Linked DNA regions of Homo sapiens: region 2 is linked to region 1. The links come from fine-mapping of genetic effects on gene expression. A gene starts in region 1. The other region holds a variant in brackets. All regions are shown on one strand. Distances are from middle to middle. Region 1 holds the start of PHACTR2 (phosphatase and actin regulator 2). Region 2 has its middle 27 kb from the start of FUCA2.

Region 1 (12,704 bases):
CTTCTCCTCATCTTTACCTCTCTTATTCTATGTACTCCAACCACACCATTTCCCCTGGATTCCTCAAACATATGCCATGCTCCTGTCTTTATATTAACTGGTCTTTCTTCTTGGAACACCTCTCCCCCAGATAGCCATATGGTTAACTCCATTACCTCCTTTGTGTTTTTGCTTAAACATTATCTTCTCAGTGAGGACAACTGTGAACACCACATGCCAGTCCAATCTCTCTTACTCTTCTGAATTTCATAGCACTTTTCATCTTCTAAATTGTTATAAAGTTTACTGATTTATTATGTTTACTGCTTATTTTCTGTCATTCCATTAGAAGGGAAGCTCTATGAGTGCAGGTGTTTTTGTATTTTGTATAATTCTGTCTCCTAAGTACCTAGAACAAAGACTGGTAAAAAGGAGATGCATAATAAATATTTGTTGAGTGGTGAACCAATCAATGAGTTATTATTAATATAGAACTAGCATATATGTAACACAATATAGACCCAAAGTCTTTTCATGGAGCAGGAATACAGTGAAATACAGTTACATCCCAAATGCCCATTAACTGGTAAACAGATAAACAAACTTTTGTATAGCCATACAATGGAAGGCAACCTAGAACAAAAAGGAACAAAATACAGATACACAGAGCAACATGGATGAATATCAAAAACATATGAAACAAGCCAGATTAAAAAAAACTGTACATAATATTATTCCATTTGTAAGAAATTTTAGATAAATCAAAAGTATGGACATGGAAAGCAGGTTGGCAGTTCCCTAATGCCAAGGGTGGTACAGGGATGTGAAACAGGAATTAACTGCAAAAGGACATGATGGAATACCTTAGGGATCTCAAAGTTTTCTGACACTTGAGTGTGCTGTTGGTTGGACTACATGTTTATTAAAACTTATTGAACTGTTTGCTTTAAATGGGTACATTTTAGGGTCCATAACTTATTCTTCAAAAAGCTGCAAGCAAGCCTGGGCAATATAGTGAGACCCTATCTCTACAAAAAAAAAAAAAATTACAAATAATTAGCTGGGCATGGTGGCAGGCACCCATAGTCCCAGCTACTCTGGAGGCTGAGGTGGGAGGATTGCTTGAGCCCAGGAGTTCAAGGCTACAGTAAGCAATGATTATACCACTGCACTCCAGCCTGGGCCACAGAGCAAGACGCTGTCTCAAAAACAAAAAACAAACAAAAAAAGCTGCAAGCAATAAACAAACAAATACAGTTAATTCTGACCACCTACTATTAGAATTTAATCTTTCTTTAATTCAGGAAGCACTTCACAATCTTAGGGCACCTTCAGAATGAATGAGCACCTCTGTGTGGCAAAAATGTGGATTTAGTAATTTGCTAAAGTTCAGAGCCTTCTCTGTACTAACCTACTGGGCATCCCTAGCACTTGGAGGAACAAACTTCTTCTTTTTTATTTTTATTTTTATTTATTTATTTCTTTTTGAGACAGAGTCTCACTCTGTTGCCCAGGCTGGAATGCAATGGCTCAACCTCAGCTCATTGCAACCTCCGCCTCCCAGGTTCAAGTGATTCTCCGGCCTCAGCCTCCCAAGTAGCTGAGATTACAGGAGTGCACCACCACGCCTGGCTAATTTTTGTATTTTTAGTAGAGACAGGGTTTCACCATGTTGGCCAGGCTGGTCTCAAGCTCCTGACCTCAGGTGATCCGCCCACCTCGGCCTCCCAAAGTGCTGGGATTACAGGCATGAGTCACCACTCCCAGCTGGAGGAACAAACTTCTCTTCCTCCACTGTTAGGATCATGTATTTGTAGGCTGCAACACCCACCCTCCACCGTACCCATACTATGACCTCCGCCACAGGAGAGTCCATACCTCACTTATCCTTATGCCCATGTGCTAGAGGTACCACGCCCATGGGAAGTCCTCAGTCAATTCTAGGTGAATGAGTAGATGATTATTTCAGAGGGGCATACAAAAGAAAATTTACAGTCACAGACAGACTCGATATTCTCTTGCTATGGAGTCAACATTCTATATTATTACCAAAATTTTACATGTATTCCCAGATTTTTTTTTTTGTCCATACTTGGAAGTTACCATTAAGGAGATAACATAAATGCTTATTTTTAATTTATCATCTATGTATTCAGTACCCTCTATTTGCCAGGCAAATTTTGTTAGTTTCTAGGGATGGATGTGATGGTTAACAAAACAAAGATTTGGGCCTTACTGGAAGCAATTATTTTGTGTAAATTGGGCAGTCATATAAAAGATGTCTTTAAGGACTGTTCTCTTTAGATTTTGGTCAATAAATTAAAGATTATTCATTTTATAGCAGTTTTTAGAGTTTTAATACTATGGATGAGTACTTTGTTTTGCTTATGAAATGAAGTAGAGCAAAATTACAGACGCTTTTCCTCCCAGGGTAGGGAGAATGTCTTTGGAAAAGGAAATTCCAGCACCACCCCTTGAGGTCTTTATTTTCCAGCATAAATCTTCCAACTGTGGGGCTCACTCACTAAGCAAGCACACGTGAGCCACACCCCGCCTCTGCAGAGACTCACGCAGGGTGAGGCAGAGGCAAGGTATTTTGTTAATCCTTTTAGCTTGAGCAAGCAGAAGAAGGAAAACTCAGGAAATAAATCACATGAAAATATGAGAACAATAGGAAAGAAAAGCCTGTCTTTCAGGTTTGTTTCCTGTTCTAATACTTGTGGAATGTGGTCTTCTACTGATGCTTAATATAACTAGAATATGCAAAGTTGTAATTCTTTCCTTAACAAAAGTTTTCCTTTATCTGTTAGCATTATCCTGTTCAAACCAGCATCTCTCAGAATTGTTAAAATCTAAGATATAGTAGCCATTTAGTTGCAACTTTACCATAGAGTAACATTTTACAAAGTAAACATTAGTTACATATACAGAGTTTTCACTGAGTTTATATTATCTAGTAAAGCTCCCATTTGCTTTTTATATTTTTCTAAGTAAGCTGACTCTTACAAAATGTAGCCAAGTTTTGAAGACATACAAAGTTTTTAAAAACCAGAAGATCTTCTAGTAAAAACTACCCAAATAGTTAAAACAACTTTTGCATATCGTTTTTAGTATACTATTAGGAAAACTGCTAAGTTTTCATTCATTTCCTTCCCATTAAGAAATAATTTTTCTATTGCTACAATTCCCATTAGCCAAGGAAATGTCACTAATTCACAGGGTGTCTATGGTCAAATCTAGAAATAAGGGTGTAAATTAATGTAATCTTCATCTGCTTGTATATGGCCACTATCAACCACTGTTGCCTCCCAGGTCACTGCTGTTCTGATCAACCATCTCATCTCTTGGGACTCTGCCTAACCCTTCCCTCCCATCATAATTCCTCCACCCCTAACATCTGGTGTCTCAAAATGAATCCTCACACAGCTGGCAGCATCTGGACAAGGCAGAGACCTCCAGGATTAGTATTCATGGCATTTGTGTTCTGAGGAAGGTTCCTTCTTCTTCCTGCTCCAGGCTAGATTTGGCTGCCTAGAAAAATCTGGCAGTAACCTAAGTTATAGGATTTGGTAGTGGTGACTGTAGTAATTGTAAACCATCTTCTCTAAAGGCACCAAGTTGTATGTCTGCCATTTGGACTTTGACCTAGAAAAGAACTTTCTCACAAATGGTCCAGATTGCCAATGTTTAGGCTTTTGTCCGCTTTAACTTTAACCTAATAGATATAGTGGCTTCCATCCAGGAGGAGTGCAAGTGTCACTTTGGGTACCCCAGGTGGGTGAGTCTAAGACTTCCCACATCAGACAAGCCAGTGAAGTCTGTGTTACAGGGTAGAATGCTTGAAAACCTGATAAGTACAACTTTGTGTCATAAAGGCACACTGGCTTTCAGAAGGGGAAATTCTATCTCACTAATTCACTTTCTTTAGTTTCTTTCTGGAAATAAATGAATAAATCACAGTAGTTCTTTCAGAGCTTGAAAAATATTTAGAGTGTTCCATGGAAAAAATCAGTAGATGCCATTAGTCTATATTTTTAGGAAGGCTAAATAGAAGCTATTCCTCAAACTCAGCCATGGTATGATATGATGCGGCATTATTATAACAGAGAAAAGTAGCGGTGTGCTGAAGGCAGTTCACACAGGCTGGTGGGCCAAATTGTTACATTTCAAGGAATTTTGCAAGCTGTTTGATATCAGTTTTGCTAGCTGGTTGAAGGCCTGTAGAATAGGTTATTGTAGGAGTATTTACATCACAGTAAACAAAGCAGTCTGAGGCCCCCTCCTGCCTCCTCACCCCCAGCCCAAACCAGTTAAGCATTTACCAAGATATCACTGGATAAGAGATTGGTTTAGAAATAGAGAACAAAGGGTGGGACCAATGGGATAAATGCTGAAGAATTATAAATAGATAGCTTCCTCAGAGTTAGGTATTGGGTCTAATCCTGTTTAGCATTTTAATAAATTCCCTAGAGAGAGGTAGTATACAGAGAAATGTCCATGCCTTTCAGATGACATTAAATGTTTCCAGAGTTAAACTATAAACCCATGGGATTAACACCCAGAACTCTTAGTAAAACTGTGTGAGTTCTAATAAGGCAAGAGTAAGGCAATTTGGGGGAAAATTATCTTAAAATTCTCTTGTTAGGTGATAATATCTAACCTTTGCGTTACAACCTAGAAATGAAATTTAGAGATTTCTGTAGACGTTTTCTATGTTCATTAGTATAACTTGTTAGCTGTGATAAAAAGGCCACTTAAATGCCAAGTTCCATCAGAAGCTCTAGAAACCAAGAACAAGAACTGTCCCACTCTTAGAAAGAAAACTTAGTGCACACTTCCTGCAGTTTTGGTTGACATGCTTCAAGGATAATGTAATGGAACTGGAAGAGTTTCAGAGAAAATTGCATAACCTGGTTAGGGTATTATAGGAATCCCAGATGAGGCTGAAGATTATATTAACTAGCAAATCATGAAAGGTCTTGAATAAGGTAAATATAGCTGTATTAAGCAATTCCTGAAAAACTGGAACTATAGTGCACCTCCTTGATCTTTGAAATAAGAATTTATAGAAGTAATAGAAATATGCTATTGTTTCTCAAGGAAAAGAAGAAATGATAGCAACCTTAAAGTTTAACTTTTATCAGTATTTAAAAATTATTACAGTTACATATTTTGAATGTGCAAAAGGTACTGTATATTTCCTCTGATCAGTGACCTCCCTTTATCAGAAAGACTGTCAAAAGGAAGAGTGAAACATTCTCCCTCTTAACTTACCTTTAACCACTTTTGTTTGTTTGTTTTTTTCTTACGGCAACTCAAAGCAAAGAGCTGGAGGAGCCAGCCATTATAATTGCTTACTCTCATCGCTTAGCGCCCCAGGTGGGATGTGTTTCCAAAACACATTTTTGTATTTATAAGGAAATGTAGTTAGGATTAATTTTATTGTCCTAATTAGAACTCACATTTTGGTTAAATCCTCAATTTCATTAAAAAAAAAAAAATCAGTGTTTCTTAAGAGTGAATTAGGCAAAGGGAAGAAGACAATGGATCACACTTTTTTAGGGAAAAGATCTTCCTCACAGTGGTGGGTGGGCTATTTGGGTGTGAAAAAACATAGGGCAACTTAATTAACCATGACAAAACAGACAAGTAAGTGCCTTTCAAAAAAATCAAACAAGGCTCTGCACGATCTTAATAATAAAAATTTTAGAAAAAAATGATTTTCATGTTAGTTCAGAGTTGATTGTCTAGGATAAATTAAAAAATGAAAGCTGTGGTAAATGACCTAAATATATTGCACTTTCTGATATTTTTTACATTTTAATGAAATATATGCCTTCAGCAAAGTGCACACATCATTACAGACATCTCAATGAATTTTCATAAAATGAACACATCCAGTAACCACCATCCAATCTAATGCACCATATACAGATGTTCCATATACTGTATATATATATACACACATTATATATATATAGCATGAAGATTACTTATACTAATTAATCATTAACTGTAAATATGAAGAATATTTATTTGTATTCATATTTTTAAGAAGATTGAGATTTAACAGGATATTATAGAAGGGTTTAATTCACCTTTCAAGTTTGTTATAGTTTTTTTCCCCTTTTGTGTATTTTAATCACTTTATTTCACAGTAATTCTTTTGAAATAAAGGAGAGGTCAGCACTCCAGAGTTTTAGGTGGGAGACAGCAAAAAGTATATTTTGTTGATCTCACACGTAGACCTACCATTTAGATTTGTTGTCAAGCCTGATTGAGGCCATTAGTGCCGTTTTTAAAAAATTATATTTGTTAAAAGGAAGATAATTTTTAAAACGAGAAAAAAATGGGCACAAGACATGAGAGTGCCACAATACTGCAAATAGAATGTAAGGAAGGAAATAACTTTTAAGAAACAAATTTTGTTAAATTAAGTACCGTGACTAAATACTTTAATTCCTTTTCTTGTAGCCCGTAAGGATCATTTGACTTTGAACCTTTTAAGTCAAAGAGGAGTAGTCTGAAAGCCTGAACTCCCTACCACCCTGAGGGGGTGCGGGTGCGGCGGGGCCGGCTGGGGGCTTCCCCCACCCCCTGCTCCTGCGCCCTCCCCCCGCTTCCCCCTCCTCCCCTCCCTATCGCCCTCACCCCCCTTCTTCCCCCGTGACCCCTGACCCCAGCTAATCTGCATAGAGGAATGACAGGCATCCGCTGGGCAGGATCCGCCGCGCCGGCTGCGGCCGGCCGGGCTGGGAGACCCGCGCGGGGTAGAAGGTGAGGGGACCCGGCGGGCCGCTCGGCACAGGCCGGGACATGAACGCCTGGAAGTCTGGCTGGGAGCGGACCCATGATCGAAGGACCAAAGGAGCCGCTTGATCGCTGGACCTGGCCCTGCGACCCCAGTCATGGGCCAGACCTCGGTGTCCACGCTGTCCCCGCAGCCCGGCAGCGGTGAGTCCGGGGCGCACGCGATGCGCTCCCGCCGCGCGGGCGCAGGGCTGGCGGCGGGGCCCCGGGGCAGGCAGGGTTAGTCGTCTGGTCGGGTTCCGCTCGGACCCGCCAAGTCCCTCGGAGAAACCCCAGAGGTAGCGCTCGCCAAACTCTTTGTCGTGAAAGAGGAATGCCTTTTGGGATCCAGCCGATTTTACCTTAAAGGCACAGGCTCCATTTTTCTGTGCGCGATGCCTCGCTGTGGTTTTTTATCCAAATTATTTCGGAGCCAGAAACTTACGGGAAACGCCATTTGCGTATTACAGTGTTTTTAAAAACGCGAAACTTAGAGAGCAAGAGAAACATGCCAACAGGTTTTTCTGTATTTACGCTTGGCTTCCGAACAGACTAGGACTGAATGCTTTCAAGCTTGTCAACTGATTTATGGTTTGTTATTCGGAGTAGAAGCGCTGATCGCCTTATCCTGGCAGACGCTGAATACTTAATAACTAGCCCCGAAATGCGTAATTGTTTCAAATGAGACTTGTTTTGTTTATAGTAGATACAGCAGCTATAACATTTAGGGAAACATATCTCATGAACTTAGTTCTCCAGGACTAAAGTTAGTTTTATGGAGACGTGTGTAACGTGTCTGAGTTCTAATGCTCTGTTTTAAAAGTTTCTTTTTTCCATTTTCTTAAACAAAAAGAGGGAAGGAAGGTACGTCTGGCATTTCCCCGACAGTGTAGGGATAAAAAAAAAAAAAACTGTTTGGTGGTGTTACTTGTGATTGGATAAGGAAATAAATTTAAAAGGTACTATTTTGATATTTTTCCATCAACGATTAAAAATAAATAATACTCGAAGGGACCGTTTATGTTACTCATTGAGATATTTGATACACTTTTTAAATTGTGCAAACATCAACAGGATCTTGCTGAAAGGAAATGACAGGGTACAGAGGAAGGTTTTTTAATCTGCCTCAGGATGTCTAGCTAGATAGCATTCTGTCATTCCAACCCCCCACCCCACTTTATACCCAGTGGGTTTCTTTAGGTAGCACAGCTTCACTCCCTGAGATACCACAAGCTTTGCTGAGGTTTCTGTTAATACCACAGAAGACCCTTCTGCAAAGAAGAGACATCAGAATCAGAATATACCTTCTTTACCATTAATGACATGGCTACAGCTCTGAAATCAAAGACCTCATGTTGACAGCTTTTTGAGAGATATTTGCGGGGAGGGGTTGAGTAGGATTTTAAATTTAGTAAACTATTTTGTGCAAATAAGACTTGGTTTCCTTTGTCTTACCTTAAAGTGGTGTGAGACTTCTTTTCATTTCAAGGAAGGGTTATATTTTTACATTTGTGCACCGGCGAAGATAGAATTAAATCTGTACTCCAATACAAGAGTATACAGAAAGTATTGTCCTGAATTTAGTGATTTTATCACAAAATATTACTCGAGTGAATATTAGAAAAGCAAATTTTGCCTTAATAAAAATCAAGGAATATTATATAAATGATGTCTAAGAAGCAAATAAAATCCTAAAGTGAGACTCCCTACGTCTTAGTACAGCAAAAAAACCCGGATTGCTATAATTCCAAATAAAATGACTGATTATAATGAGAAACTGTAATCTACTTAAGTAAAAAGTGTTTTAAACAAAAATTTATGCTTGATCATGAAAGATAATTCAGAGAAATATCTCACGGAACGGTGTTATACTTAAATTGCAGGTCCTCAGTTTTGCGGATTAAAAGTTTGTATGAATTGAAATGACCAATCCATACATCATAAATACAGGGTTTTTTATTTTTCAGTTAAGGAATGACAGTGGTTATGACTTAAGTTGTGGTATTGTAAAAGAACAGTTTTCTCGTGGTATCCAGTGTCTCTAAATCCGTTAGAGCTACCCTGTTTCCCTGAAGGTTTGCCATCAGATTCCAAATGAAAACCAAAAAAAAAAAAATTTAAATTAAATAACGTTTGCTGAGTTTTATATTCATGTCTGTATTTTTCTGAGTCTGAGACTGTCAAACTCTCTACTATTCCAGGTATTTTGTTCACTCCTTGTTAACTGTTTAACTCTGGCTTTACAGATGGCGTGAAGATCCTTGTTCTGTTTGATCTTAGCCATTGACTAGTTGTTTAAGTCTGGAGCAGCTGCTTAGGATTACAGTATTAAAGATGATTCTCATCTTAAATGCTTAGTGGGCGAAAATCTGTTTAAGTCAAAGGAATCAATAGCACAGAGTTTAATTATTCATACTTATCGCTCAATTTGGCCTTTTGTAAAAATCTTCATTATAGGCTAGAAGTTAGCTTGCTTTCCCCGTTTTGACTTTAGGCTCTCTAGAGCCTTTCAGTTTAGGTTGCACCTAATTCTCTGGGTTCTAGGAAGACCATTAATAATTTTTTCTGAAAATATGCAGTTAGATCCATTATTAAAAAGAACAGCTGTATTGATGTATAATTCACATACTATAAAATTCACCCATGGAAAGTGTACAGTTCATTGTTTTTCAGTGTGTTCACAGTGTTGTGTGACCCTCAATCTCTGTTCCCACCCTATTCAACCAGTGGGCTCTACCTTAATGAAACACTAATCAACTTTTCTGTCTCTATAGATTTTCTTATTGAGAACATTTCATGTCAATGGAATCATAATGTGTCATTTTGTGACTGGCTTCTTTCAGTTAGCATAATGTTTTCAAGGGTCATCCATGTTGTAGCATGTATCAGTTGTTCATTTCTTTTTATTGCCAAATAATATTCTACTGTATGAATATGCCACATTTTATTTATCCATTTATCAGTTGATGGACATTTGGGTTATTTCTGCTTTGGGCTATTTATGAATAATGCTGCTCTGAACTTAATGTACAAGTTGTTGTGAAGATATGTTTTCATTTCTCAGGTATATATTTAGTAGTGGAATTGCTAGATTATATGGTAGGTAGTTCTATGTTTAACCTTTTATGGTGTTGCCAAACAGTTTCCAAAGAAGTTAGACCATTTTACATTCCCACCAGCAGTGTATGAAAGTTACAGTTTCTCCACATCCTTACCAACATTTGTTACTGTCTTTTTGATTATAGCCATCTTAGTAGGTGTGAAGTTATATCTCATGGTTTTGATTTCCTTTTCCCTAATTACTAATGACCTTGAGCATCTTTTCATGTGCTATTGGCCATTTGTATATCTTCTTTGGAAAAAATGTCTTCAGATCCTTTGCCTAATTTTAGTTGGATAATTTGACTTCTGTTGGAGTTTTAGTTCTTTGTATACTAGATCCAAATCCCTTGTCAGGTACATGATTTGCAAATATTTTCTGCCATTCTCTGGGTTGTCTTTTCATCTTGGTAGAGTGATTTGCAGCTCAGAATTTTAAAGTTTTGATGATGAGCAGTTTATCAATTTTTTTCTTTTGTTGTTTGTGTTTTTGGTATCACATCTGAGAACTACAGCCTAACCAAGGCAAGAAGACTTACACCTGTGTTTTCTTCCAAGCGTTTTATAATTTTGGCTGTTACATTTAGGTCAGTAATACATTTTGAGTTAATTTTTATGTATGGCGTCATGTAGGGTTTCATTCTTTTACATGTGAATATCCAATTGTTCCAGCACCATTTGTTGAAATGACCGTTCTTTCCCCATTGAATGGTGTTCCACCGTTGCCAAAAATTGATTGACTGTGTACATAAGGGTTTACTTCTGGATTCTCAATTCTGCTCCATTGTCTCTTCTTATGCCAGTTACCACAATGTCTAGATTACTGTAGCTTTGTAGTAAATTTTGAAACCTAGAAGTATGAGTTTTTCAATTTTGTTCCTTTAAAAGTTTCTACTGGTTATTCTGGTTCCCTTACATTTTCATATGAATTTTGCAATCAACCTGTCAATTTCTGCAAAAAAGCCAATTAGAGTTTTGATAGCAATGATATTGAACCTGTAGATCAATTTGGGTAGTACTGCTGTCTTAACAATATGAAGTCTTCTAATCCATGAACATAGATGCCTTTCCATTTCTTTGTATCTTCTTTCTTTTCACCATGTTTTGTAGTTTTCAGTGTAGTGCAGTGGTGCGATCATGGCTTATCCACTGCACCCTCAACCTTCTGGGCTCAAGCGATCCTCCAACCTCAGCCTCCTGAGCAGCTGGGACCACTGGTGCCCACCACCATGCCCAGCTACTTTGTATTGTTGGTAGAGATGGGGTTTTCTGTGTTGCCCAGGCTGGTCTCAAATTCGAGATCTCAAGAGATCCACCCACCTGGGCCTTCCAATATTGCAGGGATTATAGGCATGAGCCACCATGCCTGGCCTGAACTCATTTTTTAGTCCTAGTAGTTTTTCAGTGGATTCCTTATGATTTTCTATATACATGATCATACTATATACAAGATCTATTTACATGTGCAAAGAAACAACATTTTAATTCCTCCTTTTAGAGTTGAATGCCTTTTATTTTATTTTTTTCTTACTTAATAGTTCTGGCTAGAACCTTTAGTCCAATGTTAAGTAGAAGTGGCAGTTGTGAGCATTTTTGTCTTGTTCCTGATCTAACAAAAAAAGTTGTTTTTTTGTTTTTTGTTTTTTGTTTTTTTTTACCATTAACTGTGCTATTAGCTATGGGTTTCTTCATAGGTTCACTTTGTCAAAAAGTTCTCTGCTATTCCTACTTTGTCAGTGTTTTTATCATGAAAGATTGTTCAATTTTGTCAAAGGTTTTTCCTGCCTCTATTGAGGTGATCATATGGTTTTTGTCCTTTATCCTATTCATTTGTCATGTTACGTTAATTGATTTTTGGTTGTTAAACCAACCTTGCATTCCTAGGATAAATCCCACTTGGGTAATGTGTATAATCCTTTTTGTATGTTGCTGGGTTAGGTTTACAAAAGTATTTTACTGAGAATTGGATCCATTATTTCTAAGTACAGGCTAAAACGATATGCCCTCAAATAGGATGGTTTCGGTACCCTCTGGCATCATGCCCTAGGAGGATTGAGACTTCTAGTATTTCATTGTGAAGTGTAGAGCATGGTAGATTGGATACAATACATTTTTGATGAATATATGAATGAGTCAACAAATAGTCTCAATAAGCAGCCTGACTGCTTTAAACCAATGATTATATGAATGAGAGGTATGTATTTTTTATATTCTTTTTTTAGTCCAAGAATTACATTACTCTGGCTCTATTGTCTGAAGGGTGGTATCTGAATCTAGTAATTATTTCTTCTAGTTTTTTCCAACCCCACCCCATTTTCACGGTGCCACAGATCAGCACTTGGCTGCTTCTCCTCAATCCTTGGGTTGAAAGGGCAGACAATGCCACTGTCCCCATTTTTAAGAGACAAGAGAACAAGTAAATAAAGTGTGCAGGATCACACCTATGTTGTGATAGAACCTGTATTCATCTGTGTCTCTGGGTTTCCAAGTTTTGTTCAGGGCCCTGTATTTGTCTTGTCCAGAATATTTATCCATTTCCTTGTAAACCAGGCACAGGAAGAGGTCCTAAAGGCAAAAGCTGATGGAGTTTGTTTTCTTTATTCCATAATATATACATGGTAGGAAGTCAAACATTACAAGATGGTTTGGGATAAAAATGAATTTACTCCCTCCCAGAATCCTCCAGTCCCACTTTTCATCTATAACCCAGCATGAACAGTTTTTTTCATTCCACACAGTTTTCATTCATAGATATATCTTTATCAGCAGTCAAACAAGACATACTATACTTACTGCTCTATACTTTGAATTTTTCGTGTAATATAACTTGAAAATAC
Region 2 (12,704 bases), 140 kb before region 1:
ATGATGCTGCAGACAAAGGAAACGGGAGTTCAAAGGCACCCCGAGAGGAAGAGGAGGTGCCATTCAGAGAATGATGAATTGGTCTGCATGGCTAGGGAGTGGAGTATTGTGCAGAGAGGGAAGATTTTCTGCCCTCTGAGGGTGTGATAATTGAGTCTATGAAAAATGGACAGTAGGCAGATTAACAGGAAAAAAACATATTTAATTATGTATATATGCACAGGAGTCCCACAAAATCTGAGACTGGAAGAAGAGTCAGATGATTGAAGCTCATATAGTATCCCTGAGCTACAGAAAGCAAGAGGGGCTTGGTGCTTCTGGGAGTGGTGGTGACACACATCATGGGAGGGTGAGGGGAGGAAATGTGTGGCAAACAAAGGTTGTCTTATTGTGCAGATAAAAATTCTCTCGGGTAATAAAAGTTGTTTCAGAGTAGCCTATCAGAAGAATCTGTATCAGCCTGTGACAAAGTCCATCTGGGCAAGGTGTCAACCTTCATTCTCATCTTCTATGATAAGATCTTCCCTGGTTGATGAGAATCCTAAAAAATTGTTTTCCTTTACAGAAGTAAATTTCTTTTACCAAAGGACAGCTTTTCAGAGCTACTCCTGTGTCTGCAGTTTCTCAGAATAACCCGCTCAAAATATGCCAAAGAAGTATATCCCAGAGTGGCATATTTTGGCCTCCTACAGTCATATTTTGAGGTGTTGTGTCCTGAGCCGCCACAGTATGTATAACAGCAGCAAGGAAAGAGTTTGGGGTAGGGTACGGAACCCTGATATGCCATGCTGAGGAATATACACTTTATTCTGTGTATATTCATAGACACTTGCTTTGAGGGAATTAAAATGGAGGGGTAGCGAAGTCTTGTGAGTACTTTGGAAAGATCATTCCAGAAATGGGATGGGGGCAGAGTAGAAGAAAGTGAGTATGGAGATAGAGAGTTCCTTTAGGAGAAAATAGAAGATGGAGGCTCAAACTAAAGAGGTGGCAATGGAATAGCAGGGAGGAAACCGATTCTGAGGATATTTATTTAAGGTATTAAGATATTTATTTATCTAAGAGAATAGACAGAGCATGTTCATGAGGAGGAGGAGGAGGAGTTCAGCTCAGGGAGTGTTGACTGCCAAATGTCAATGAAACATCAAGAAGGGAAGCCCAGGAAGCAACTAGATGCTGGGATCTGAAGCCCAGGAGAGAGGTCTGGGGTGGAGAGAGTCATTTGTGTGTAAGTCAAAGCCGAAGCTGGGATCTCCCAGGAGAAACAAGTCAAGTGGGAAGAGAAGAGGGCTGATGCTGGACATCTGGGGAACAGTACCTATGGGCAGATGGAAAAAAGAGACCCTGACAAGAGGGTAACAAGGAAGCAGAGGGGCTGAAGGAACACCTGGGGAGATGAGTGTCCTAGAAACCAGGGAAGCAGAGCCCACAAAACGAGTCAGTGGTCGAGAGTGTTAAAAGCGACAGAAGACATCAGATTAAGTAAGACCTGAGAGGTTCCCAGTACATTTGACAATGAGCTGCTCAGATGTGATCTTTGCTAAAGCAGCTCCATGCAGTAGGGCGAGCAGTAGTCATACTACAGATGGTAGAAGAATGAATGGGGAAGGGGGACTGTAAGAACTTGGGAATAGCTTCTGGAGTATACGCTACTCTCTGTAGAAGATTGACTGTCATGGGAAAATGAATGGAGGAATATTGGGCTGAGAGGTTCCTTGACGATATGGAGAGCCTAGCACAGTGCCTGGCCCAAAAAGGCACTCAAATATGTAATTATCTAATAAAAGTTGAAATGATGAATTGCTAAATAACTGAAAAATGAGTCAGAGAAGACTTCTTGTATTTGAAAGCATTTAATTCCTCATTTAATTCCTCTCTTCACAAGAGAGGACACAGAAGATTAACCAGAAAAGGAAAAAGCATGCAGTCCAGAAGAATGTATGAACATTCATGTTGTAAGCAATGGGGAGAGAAAATTGGGGTGAGACCCAGGCATAGGCAACTGGAATGTGTGCCCCAGAGAGAAGGCAGCTTGTGAAGGGGGAGCTTCTTGCTGAGGAAGTGCACTGAGGGAATACAGACAGCATCATCAGGTAATACAATACACTAGATAGCAAACGGTGCTGAGAAATGCCATTGTAATCTAATGCTGGTTATTCAGGGTAACTGTAAAATCCATCTCAGTGCACTCTCAATCTTATCGATGACCTATTGTCTAAAGTAACGCATAGTGAATTCTCTAAAGGCAGAGATACCTTTTTTTCCTATCATAAACTACACAAGATATCAAGAAAGTAAGGTCACATTTGGAGTAGTATAAATTTAAACAGACTGTTAGTAGCAAATATTTAGAGCAAGACCAGACAACATTGGCTGACTTTGTGAAAAGGGGCCTGTATTTGGACAGATTTGATTTATTAGTTTTGCTATTTTATTTTATTTTATTTCATTTTATTTTGAGACAGGCTCTTGCACTGTTGCCCAGGCTAGTGTGCCGTGGCATGACCATAGCTCACTGTAAACTTGAACTCCTGGGTTCAGGCGATCCTCCTTCCTCAGCCTCCCGAGTAGCTAGGACTAGAGGCTTGCCTCACCAGCTGGACTAAAATTTTTTTATTTTTAATTTCTGCAGAGATGGGGACTTGCTATACTGCCCAGGCTGGATATGAACTCTTTGCCTCAAAGGATCCTTCCATCTCAGCCTCTCAAAATACTGGGACTGCAGGTGTGAGCCACCATGCCTGGCCTGTATTTGGACAGTTGTTGCAGCACCATGCTTAGCCTATATTTGGACAGTTTTTGCAGCAAAGATGGAATAATCATATCTTCCCTACAGAGTTCCTGTGAGAATTATAAGTGAAAGCCCTTTTAAATGATCAAGGGTGAGCTGTGTGTGTGTGTGTGTGTGTGTGTGTGTGTGTGTGTGTGTGTGTATCATGACCTAGTTGCTACTAAGGCCTTTGTGCGTGTCGGTGTGCTTCTGCAGCATGTACTCTTGGTTTTTGTTCCTCTTTTCTCTTACCTTCTTGATTAGGTTTGTTCTCTTATTAAATGATATAATACGTGCAAAATGCCTGACATAGCACCTAGAATCGGGGTGTGTGTGTTAACAGGAGTAATTGCCAGCGCTGTCCCTTCTTTCCCCCCATATCTCCATCTCTTCTCACTGGCTATCTATGGTCTGTGGGTGAACCAAGGGACGTTCCTCCTTTGCCATGAACTTTCAGAGGACTGATGACTCCTGAGCCTGACTTACAGTCTTTTAATTCTGGGCGAGTCACAACTTGGGGGCCTAATCGTGAGATTGATAAAGCTTAGGCTTTGAAATCACCAGCTGAATCAGCATAATCTCCACTGCTCATTCTGCAAAATCCTACAAGGTGTGGCATTAACTAAGATATTTCTAATCAATGCAGCTGCCTTTCCTTTAGAAAGCATTGACTCAGACATCAAATCTGTGATATTTATTTAGTTCTCGGAAGACTGGCTTTTTAAACATGACCTTTGAGTATTTACTTATGAAGGAGTTCAGAAAATGCTGCTCCAAAATACGCTGCTTTGGCAGGCTGGTTACTTCAAACTGAGGGTGCTTGGGGAAGGCAATTGCAAGAAGGAGCTTTCTCCGAACTTCCTTTTATCTGCCTAAAGACAGATCCTTCAGCCTGTAATCCCAGCACTTTGGGAGGCGGAGGCAGGTGGATCACCCTGAGGTCAGGAGTTCGAGACCACCCTGGCCAACATGGTGAAACCCTGTCTCTACTAAAAAACAAAAACCAACCAACCAACCCAACAAAAAACAAAAATTAGCTGGGTGTGGTGGCGGGCATCTGTAATCCCAGCTACTGGAGAGGGTGAGGCAGGAGAATCACTTGAACCCAGGAGGCAGAGGTTGCAGTGAGCCGAGATCAAGCCATTGCACTCCAGACTGGGCCACAAGAGTGAAACTCCTTCCCCTCCCCAAAAAAAGGCAGATCCTCTAATAGGAATTCATCTGTCAGGAATGGAAAAATCTGGGATCACAGCAGGCCCAGACAGATTAACACCTATGCTTCCGCTAGAAAACAACTCCTTATTACCTGATCAGCTTTTTAAAATTTGCACGAGACAACCTTTATTCTTTATACACTTCCTCCCCGACCCTCCCATAACTTGTGTCACCTGCCCGCCCCCCAAATTCCAAGATCCTGTTCTTTTCTGTAACTCAGGACGCTATACAGGCTTCAATCATCTGACCCTTTGAGCCTCATATTTTGTGAAACTCCCATGTGAACGTTGGTAATTAAAATGGGTTTTCTTTGTCCTGTTAATCTGCCTTATGGCAGTTTAATTCATAGGCCAGCCAAAGAACCTAGAAGGGTGGAGGGAAGCTATTTTTTGCTCCCTACACCCAGCAGACAGATACCCAGGGATGTGGGCAACCGTGAGAGGTAGAGATGGGCTTTGAGGGCAAGGGGTGTGGGTGCGGATGGGGAAGGGCATTAGGCTTCACTTCACAAGGGACTCCAGAATCTGCCCCTAATCCACCCGGCAAGTGCAATGCATTTTTGCGCCGGAGTTTCCTATCTGTTAACTGGGTATGATCATTCTTGCTCCATCATAGGGCAGCTCACGTATGTGTACATGGCACCCCCACCCACCACAATGGAAATGATATCGTTAGCTCTGACCTTGCATCCCAGCTCCAGAAGCCCAAACTCGGCTTTTCTGCGGCCGGATTGCTGGGTGAACAGAGCTTCGCGGAGGGGACCCCCTGCTGCCATCCTGCCGGGGGCCAGTGCCCGGGGCTTGGGGGAGGAGCAGCCGGGCAGGTTCGCGGGCACCGAGGGCGGCCCAGCTCCGAGCCCTGCAGCTTTCGCCCGCTGGAGCGA[G/T]AGCCGGCTGTAGGCGGCTCCTTCCTGTGCAAACTTTTCTGTCCTCTTCCTCCTCCCGCCCTCCGCACCGGCTCCTCGGCGCCCGGCGTCCACCTCCCCGCCCTTCTCGCTGCCTCCGGGTCGCGGCGCGCGGGGCAGAGCCGGGCAGCAGCGGGCAGCGCAGCCCTCGGCGCCGGCCCCACCCGGTGCTCCGGCCCCGCCGCCGGGAGCCGATGGCCGAGGCGGGCTGGCGCCCCGCGGCGTCCCCGGTCGATCCGGCCGGGCAGGCGGCGGCGGTCCCAGTCCCCGAGCCCGAGGCGCCCGCCCCGCCGGCGGCGCCTGCCCTGCGCTGGCTTCCCGGGGACCCGAGCCCCCGCGGCCGCTCACAGAGCGACCTCTCGTCGTCCTCGAGCAGGGGCCGCCCGCTCCGGGTCCACATCTCCGGCTCAGGTAAGAGCGGCTCGGGGCGCGGGCCGGGGAGGGCCGGCCGCGGGCAGGTGGCCGCGAGGGCGACGCGGCCAACCCGGGGCGCCCGCGGGCACTGGCCCGGCAGGCTGGCGGCGGGGTGGGGGTGGGGGACAGGGGAGGGCGGAGGCTGAACTCCCCACACTGCCGCCTCCTCGGCCGCCCGGGCTCGGCGACCCTAGGCGGAAGATGCTAAAAGCAGGCGACGGCTTGGTGCGCCTTGCGGGGCGAGTGTGCAGCCTGGGTTGGGGTAGGGAGCGCTCCCTCTCGGCTGCACGGCGCCAGGCAGCACCGCAGCTTGGCTTCCGAGGCTTTTCCATCAGAAAGAGGAACATTCTCGGTCTTCGGCGCGACTTTGGTCCCTCGGAAGGGTGCGGTTCCCTCACTTTGCGGGCTGGGACCAGGGCAGGTCTTGGGAGGCTTCCCAACTAACTGCTTATGGTTCTGAAATAAAGACGCCTTTTGCGGGTTGCTGGTAAGAGGACCCGGGATATGAGTTTTTCCTCCTTGCAAAAACCCATGAGGTTAATGGGGGAGAGCAGGGGAGAGTTTGGCGGGCTGTTTGTGCCTCTCATCCTTTAACATGTTTTGAAAAAGCCTCGGCCAGGAGCGGTGGCTCACGCCTGTAATTCCAGAGCTTTGGGAGGCCCAAGGCCGGCCGATCACTTGAGGTCAAAAGTTCGAGACCGGCCTGGCCAACATGGTCAGGAAACTTCGTCCCTACTAAAAATACAAAAAATTAGCCGCCGAGGCGGCGCATGCCTGTAGTCCTAGCTACTCAGGAGGCTGAGGCAGGAGAATCGCTTGAACCTGGGAGGCAGAGGTTGCACCACTGCACTCCAGCCTGAATGAAAAAGTGAGACTCCGTCTTACACACACACACACACACACAAACACACAAAAGCCTCAAGCTAGCCCCTCTGCGGTAGCACCGGCCCATGTGTTCTCAGAGGCTGCCCTGTGCCCCGTGCACCGGGACCGACGAAATCAGGAACTCAGCTAAGGCCGATGCTGCCGGCCGAGTTGTGTGACGTTGGGCAAATCACTTAACCTTGTCTCTCCTATCTCAGTATTCAGAGTGGGAATCATAGTATGGTACCACCACATTGGGAGGTTATGTGGATTAAGTAATCATTTTAAACTGCTTTTGAACAAAGCATTAGCCTAAGAATTGTAGGACTGTTTTTTAAAAGTCCACCAGATGCGTCAAGTTTCCACCAGTTGTCTGATGTGCAATCTTTGTAGGATGCATGGGAGCTGGGAAATTAGAAATGAAGCTAGCTAGCATCAAAAACTACCCATAGCGGCAAAAGCCCTGCCGGGGCGTGAACGTGCACTGTACCAGCTACCACTGCCCTGGTTTTCAGGCTCTGTGCTCCGGGATCAGGCCTTCTTTGGGTTCTAACTCAACCTCAGCTAAAGCTGAGCTTCCTGTTCAAAAAAGCACATTTCCATGCCTCTGACTCCACTTCAGCTGGCTAACTCTCTCACCATAGCCTTCTGTCTTCTTATTCTTGTCATATTGTTTTTGCCGCCCAACATGTGTACTTGAAAAACCTCAAAAGCATTGCCGTTGTGACTTTGTAGATCGCATTGGATGAAACAAGTCAGAACTGTTAGAATAGAGGTAGTGGGATTTGTGTAAAGATTCATCCTCTGAATTTGTATTGTGAAAAGCATTGAGTCCGAATGTTTTTAACCACCTGCTCTTGGTGTGCTGGCCAAACTGAACTCGAGCCATGGATTATTTTGATTGATTTCTACAAAGATTAACTGTTCAGAGACTCTAAAGAGACCACTGAGAATTCACCTAGTTGGTGATTGTAGACAAAGTATAGCTTGCATCGCCATTTTTCATTTTCATGGATGGAAATTATGGCCTGTATGCCGAAAAAGGACAGCAAAGACATTTAAAATGTGAGTGTGCAAAGTGTACATCATGTGAACCATGGGCTCCAATTTATAAAATTATTTTACTTCTGAGGACTCTTTGTCTTTTCTGTGTCCTCTTAACGGATGCTAGGAAGTGAAACCTTTCAGCTCAGTTGTCCCATGTGCCGCAGGATGCTGGCACAGATGTAGAAGAGTGAACATCTTTCATGTACCTGATTTCATTTTCAGAACTGAGCCTCGGATCCCTTTAAGAGCAGACTAAATGTGATCAGGAGCTCCCTGCTCTTAGAGTCAGAGAGAAAAAGAATGAGCAGGTCCTTCACTGACACACAGAGTATTTCTCCAGCATGCCCCACAGCCTCTGCAGCCTCTGTAAGCCATGCAGGATGGATCTGAGAATCAGCAAGATGACTGTGCTGGGATCTCTGAATTATCTCAGAGGCACAATAAGAGGGTTACACGCCTTGTAAAAACATTCCTTGGCCTAACACTATAGTAGCCCAATTTCCAGCCCTTCTCCAGAAGCTCTGGGCACACACAGAGGCAGCACCTAGAGCAAGGTCATGTGTGGCTTGCCAAAACAGCCCCGGACCAGCATCTGTGGCCTCATCTCAGAATCTCAGGCCCCACCCTAGGCCTGCTTAACTGAATCTGCATTTTAATAAGATCCCCAGGTTGTTCTTAGTCACCTTGCAGTTTGAAAAGTGCTGCTCTCCCACACTGGTTTTCAAACTTGGCTACACGTAGGAATTGCTTGGGGAGTTAACAACGAAGCAACCTGTGGCTGGGTCGCACACCTAGGGATTCTGATTTCATTGGCATCAGGTGCATCCTGGCCATTAGATGACGCTAATGAGTAGCGAAGTTTGAGAACTGCTGTCCTGTGCCATATTATGTCACCCTGGCTTGCTGCCGTATGTCTTGTGATACCGTGATACAAGTGTAAGTTTGAAGAATTTGTTTTAGTACCTTCTCACATCCCTATTGCTACATCCTCTCTTCTACTACTGCAGTCTCCCAAGCAGCCTTCCTTGCTCCTATTTTTGATTCCAGCTAGTTGTCAGATGTTCTTCCTAAGGGATAATTTCTAATCATGAGTTAACTCCCTGCTGTGGGTCCTTAGAAGAGTGTTGAGGGGAAAAGGAAATCACCTTTTGCAGTGACAGTGACCTGAAATGGAGAAGAGGAAGGGGAAGAAAGAGTGCTTGCCAAGAGTTGTCAGAGAACAGCCTCCCTCCAGAACGACAGACCATCCTTGCTACCTGCAATCATTACCCCAGCCTCCCCCACAGCTCCACCTCCATCCTTCTTTCCAGGAAAGAATAATAAAAACTTGGAACTCAGCCTCTAAAATCTTGCCCACTGCTGCAAACAGTCAGTCTAATACTAAATATATATTTTTAAAGACCTGTTCTGTGCTAGCACTGTGTTGATAAATACCGTGAGGGTACCCCAAGAGAATCGGCTTCCCCTGACTATGCTAGATTATTACTAGATTTTTGTCAAGACAAGCGTCTCAGACTTCAAGGGATTTTATTTAATTTGTGGCTTGAGGAATTTTTCACATAAGAATGCAAGTGCTTTATCAGAAAAAAAAAACCCAAGCCAGTTTTATATTTCAAAATCTATACAAAAAAGTTAAGAAAACAAAATATTTTCAAATAAGCAATTTTTAAAGATAGAATTGAAGTAACAGTGGAATTTATGAATAAACTCTTTTATTATGTTTATAAAAACGTGGATTCATTTTGCCATATGGTTTTTGAACTCACACTTCTGGAATTCAACAAAAGTTCTGAATTTATTTTTCTTTTTTTGAGATGGAGTCTTGCTGTGTTGTCCAAGCTGGAGTACAATGGCTGTTCGCCAGTACAACCATAGTGCACTGCAGCCTCAAACCCTGAGGCTCAAGGGATCCTGCTGCCTCAGCCTCCTGAGTAGCTGGTGTTATAGGCGCATGCCACTGCTCCCAGCCTTGGATTTTTAAAATCCAGTATTTCTTTGTAAATAAAGTGATGTTTAACTCAATTTTTAAAGTAAAATCTTGAAACAAGGTTCTCATAGTATATGGTCATGTATTCTCTTAAGTTTTAGACAGATCCTGTTCGGTATTAAGGAGCTTTGATAACTTTTTAGTGGTTTCTGATGTGCTGTTCTGATAAGCACAGTGTTTAGTAAGTAAAGAACCTGAAGACACACAGCCAGGGGCATAGACCATGTAAAGATTCAGCAAGTACCGACTGTTGGCCTACTGGGTGCCAGGTGCTGTTCTGGACCTGTGTGGGCTATAGGGAGGACCAAAAGATGTTTTTATTTTCATGTGATGATGCTTAGTCTTGCACATTGCACATTGGGCTGCATAGATCAGAGAACCATTCAAGCCACCTCCAAAAAAAGCAGTATAGGTGTGTGGACCACTTCATTAGCTTAATGTGCAAGTACAATCTCATCTTTTTATTACTGTGATTCATCTCTTCAGTATCCCTATGCCCTGGTATATATAGGCATAGGGGTAACAGCAAATCCAGGATCTTTTTCTCAAATCTTTAATTCCTGGTGTGTTCAGTGCTGAGTGGAAGTGAGAAATCTCGCATACCTCAATGTACTATCAGTTCATATGCACTGCTTCCTGGCCACTTCCATGAGATACTGCTGTCCAAGACCAGTTCTGCTGTTGGGTCACCTGTGCTGTTGGGGGAAGCTTGTGCTTGCTTATCCCTTGCTGGTGCTTCTACTATGTTTCTTACTGACCTCCAAGGTTGTAACTCTTTGAGTTGATGCTTTGTGCTCCGAAAGGGTGTCTGGGTCCCAAGAGGCTTCTGAGCCCCAGCCACGAGCTAAGCTGGAGGTGCCCTAGGCCAGGAACAATGAACACCTGCTCACTTTACATTTGTGTAACTCAGAGTGGGTTTTTTTCCAAACAAAGACCATCTGGTTCTAAGTTTACTTTCTGTCTCTCCCTGGTCAGGGAATAGCAAGGCCACCCTGCCCAGGCCAGCTCGGACAGTACAAGAGGGTGCTGGATGGAGCAGGTGCTGGTGGGCTCAGGTCCAGCCTGCGCTTTGCCCAGGTCAAGCTGTGTACCTGGTGTGGACATGTGTGCCTTCCTTCTCCCCCAGGGAGAGCACCCTTTTCTTTGCACAAAAGCCATGGGCTTCTCATCTACCCAGGAGCCTGACCGCCGGTCAGGCTTCATTCCAGAAGGGGCATCTCCTATCTGATTCTTACCAAGTTACCATAGCAGCTGATGACAGTCCTGTATCAGAGCTTGGCACATTTGAAAAATTGGCTTCACCTGTTAAGTCAGGAGGTCCTTATTAGGTCAGATTGCACCTGACCTGGGGCTGACACCAGAGAGTTGTCAGGAATTGAGGCAACCAATTCCTCTTTCTCTAGCCCTTTCCTAGGCTGGCATGGTTTCAGCAGGCTTGAGCTTCTGTTTGTCTCTCTGTTGACCAGCTTTCTTATTCTCTAATCAAAACAGATTATCTCTCCTTCATAGGTGTTTCCTCATCCATCTGCTTAAAATGGCACATCAGGGGTCCTACCTACCTGACAGCAATCTTCCTCTGTTTCCTTTTAGCTCTTGCCTTGTGTTTACCTGGGGAAAATTTCTTCATATTTCATAGTTCAAATTCTCTAGAAAAGACCTATTGTGTGAAGCCACCTTTATACAGCAAGACAGAGATCATATGCCCCATAGGTGCCTCTGGATTTGTTGCCTTTGATCAGATACTCACTGGAGCCGAAACCAGTTGTGGAGCATGAAGTCACAGTGCCAACATGGCCATGTAGAAGGGACTGAGCCTGGCCAGTTTCCATTCGTCCATTCATTCAATTAGTCTTTATTGATTACTGCTATGTGCCAGGTACTGTTCCAGGCACTGGGCATACAAAGGTGAGCAGATGTGATTCTGTGATTCTGGAGTTAGACTGAAAGCAGAGAGGATACTCAGAAAGGGTGTGGCAGGCCAGACACAGCAGTGTCTCTGGTGATCTAAGCTATAGGCCTTGCATCATGCTCAGTAAATAACATGATGATGATGATGACTGTTCTTGTTTTCAGAGGATGCATGAAGAGCTAATTTACTTAAACTAGTTAAGCTCTAGTTTGTGTCAGTACCTCAGTGGCAGCTCTGAGACAGATATTAAAGCCGTGGATTTATTCTGGCCCCTACGTACTGATGAAGATGCTGTAGGCAAGGGCATATCTTGATTTTTCATTTCTTCTTTCAATCAACAAATGGCTAGTGAGCTAACACAAAGGTTGCAAAGACATCCCTCAGGAACTCACAGTTTAGTGGGGAAAGACAGGCCAATAAGCCAAAGACCACAGTGCAATAAAGTATAAGCTATGATTAGTGCCCTGTCCTGGGCCTGGGGGAGAACCTAGGATGGTCGGCTATAGGGAATGGCTGTGGGGAGAAAATGCCTCTGGCAAGAGGTGAAACCTGGGCTATCTCTATGCAAAAGGAGGAACTGAAAGATGGAGTTGGGTTGGGGAGGAAGAGTGTTTGGGGATGGGAAACAGTACATGTAAAAGGCCTGAAACAAACTGGCATAATCAGAAAACACTCAGCAGTTGCTTTTGGCTCTGAGCAGGGTTCTTTTGGGAGAGAAGGGAGAGTAGAGAGCTGGGCAGAGACTGAGTATGGGAGGTTGCTGTGTTTGCCTTTTTCCTGGGAGACACAATTTAGGCATTTGCAAGTTTGATATGGATATATTCTGAGTATATTCTGACATGAACACTGAAAGACAGAGACAATGGTAGAAAGAGCACAGACAACTGAGATTGGGACTGTCAGGGCTCAGAAAACAATACCGCAAAGCGTGGTGCTTTGATGTGCTGAGTATTTCTAACTGAAGGACATTGGAAGGGCCTCAGAAGTAAAGCCTCTCTCTGACCTTCTCTTGCCCTTCTCTTGACCTCCTATCTTCTGTTCCCCTTTCTCCCAAAATGCAGGCCACAGAGACTAGAATTCCTCTTCCCTGAGGTGGGTTGTAGAAACTAGGAATGTTACTCTAAACTTGCCCTGCCTTTTTGTGTAGGAACTAGCCGTAAAGAAATTCTTTGACCTGCCTTGTGTGATAGTAGGTCATAAGACCTTCATTCCAGGAGGGAGGGAGGGAGGGAGTGGGAAGGAAGGAAGGCGGGCAGGCTCCCATATCAAATAAAACTTTGATTCAAGAAGTTTGTTAGGCTTTCCTCTTGTTAACCTGTCTTGTGTTACAGGAGTGTTGCCATGACCCTTACGATAGGTGAGAAAAGGTATCACACCTTTCTCCCCCATACACAGAATCTGGTTATTATCTGTGTAATCTTAGGACAGATTGACACCTGCCACCTCCCTATGCTAGGTTTAAGTCACCTCCCTATGCTAGGTTTCCTTATATCTGACCTGAAAATAATTAGTAACAGTAACACATAGCTCATAGGATTATTGTGAGGCTGAAATGTGTGAAAAGTGCTTTTGAACTTTAAAGTACTGTGTAAGTGGT

The links.
Region 2: its variant is fine-mapped to the expression of PHACTR2 in whole blood (TOPMed, PIP above 0.99).

Annotation. Positions count from the first base shown.
Region 1 is chr6:143,671,277-143,683,980 of GRCh38, forward strand. It overlaps PHACTR2 (phosphatase and actin regulator 2), which reads left to right and starts at 6,689. Exons shown (of 13, transcript NM_001100164.2): 1 at 6,689-6,933. The coding sequence starts at 6,888. RefSeq lists an enhancer at 6,033-6,881 and a silencer at 6,631-6,930.
Region 2 is chr6:143,531,911-143,544,614 of GRCh38, forward strand. It overlaps a transcript of PHACTR2 not described here. Among named protein-coding and RNA genes, the nearest start is that of FUCA2, 27 kb to the left of the region's middle. RefSeq lists silencers at 2,959-3,048, 4,635-5,064, 5,085-5,444 and an enhancer at 7,278-7,327. The variant G/T (reference allele first, on the strand shown) is at 4,869.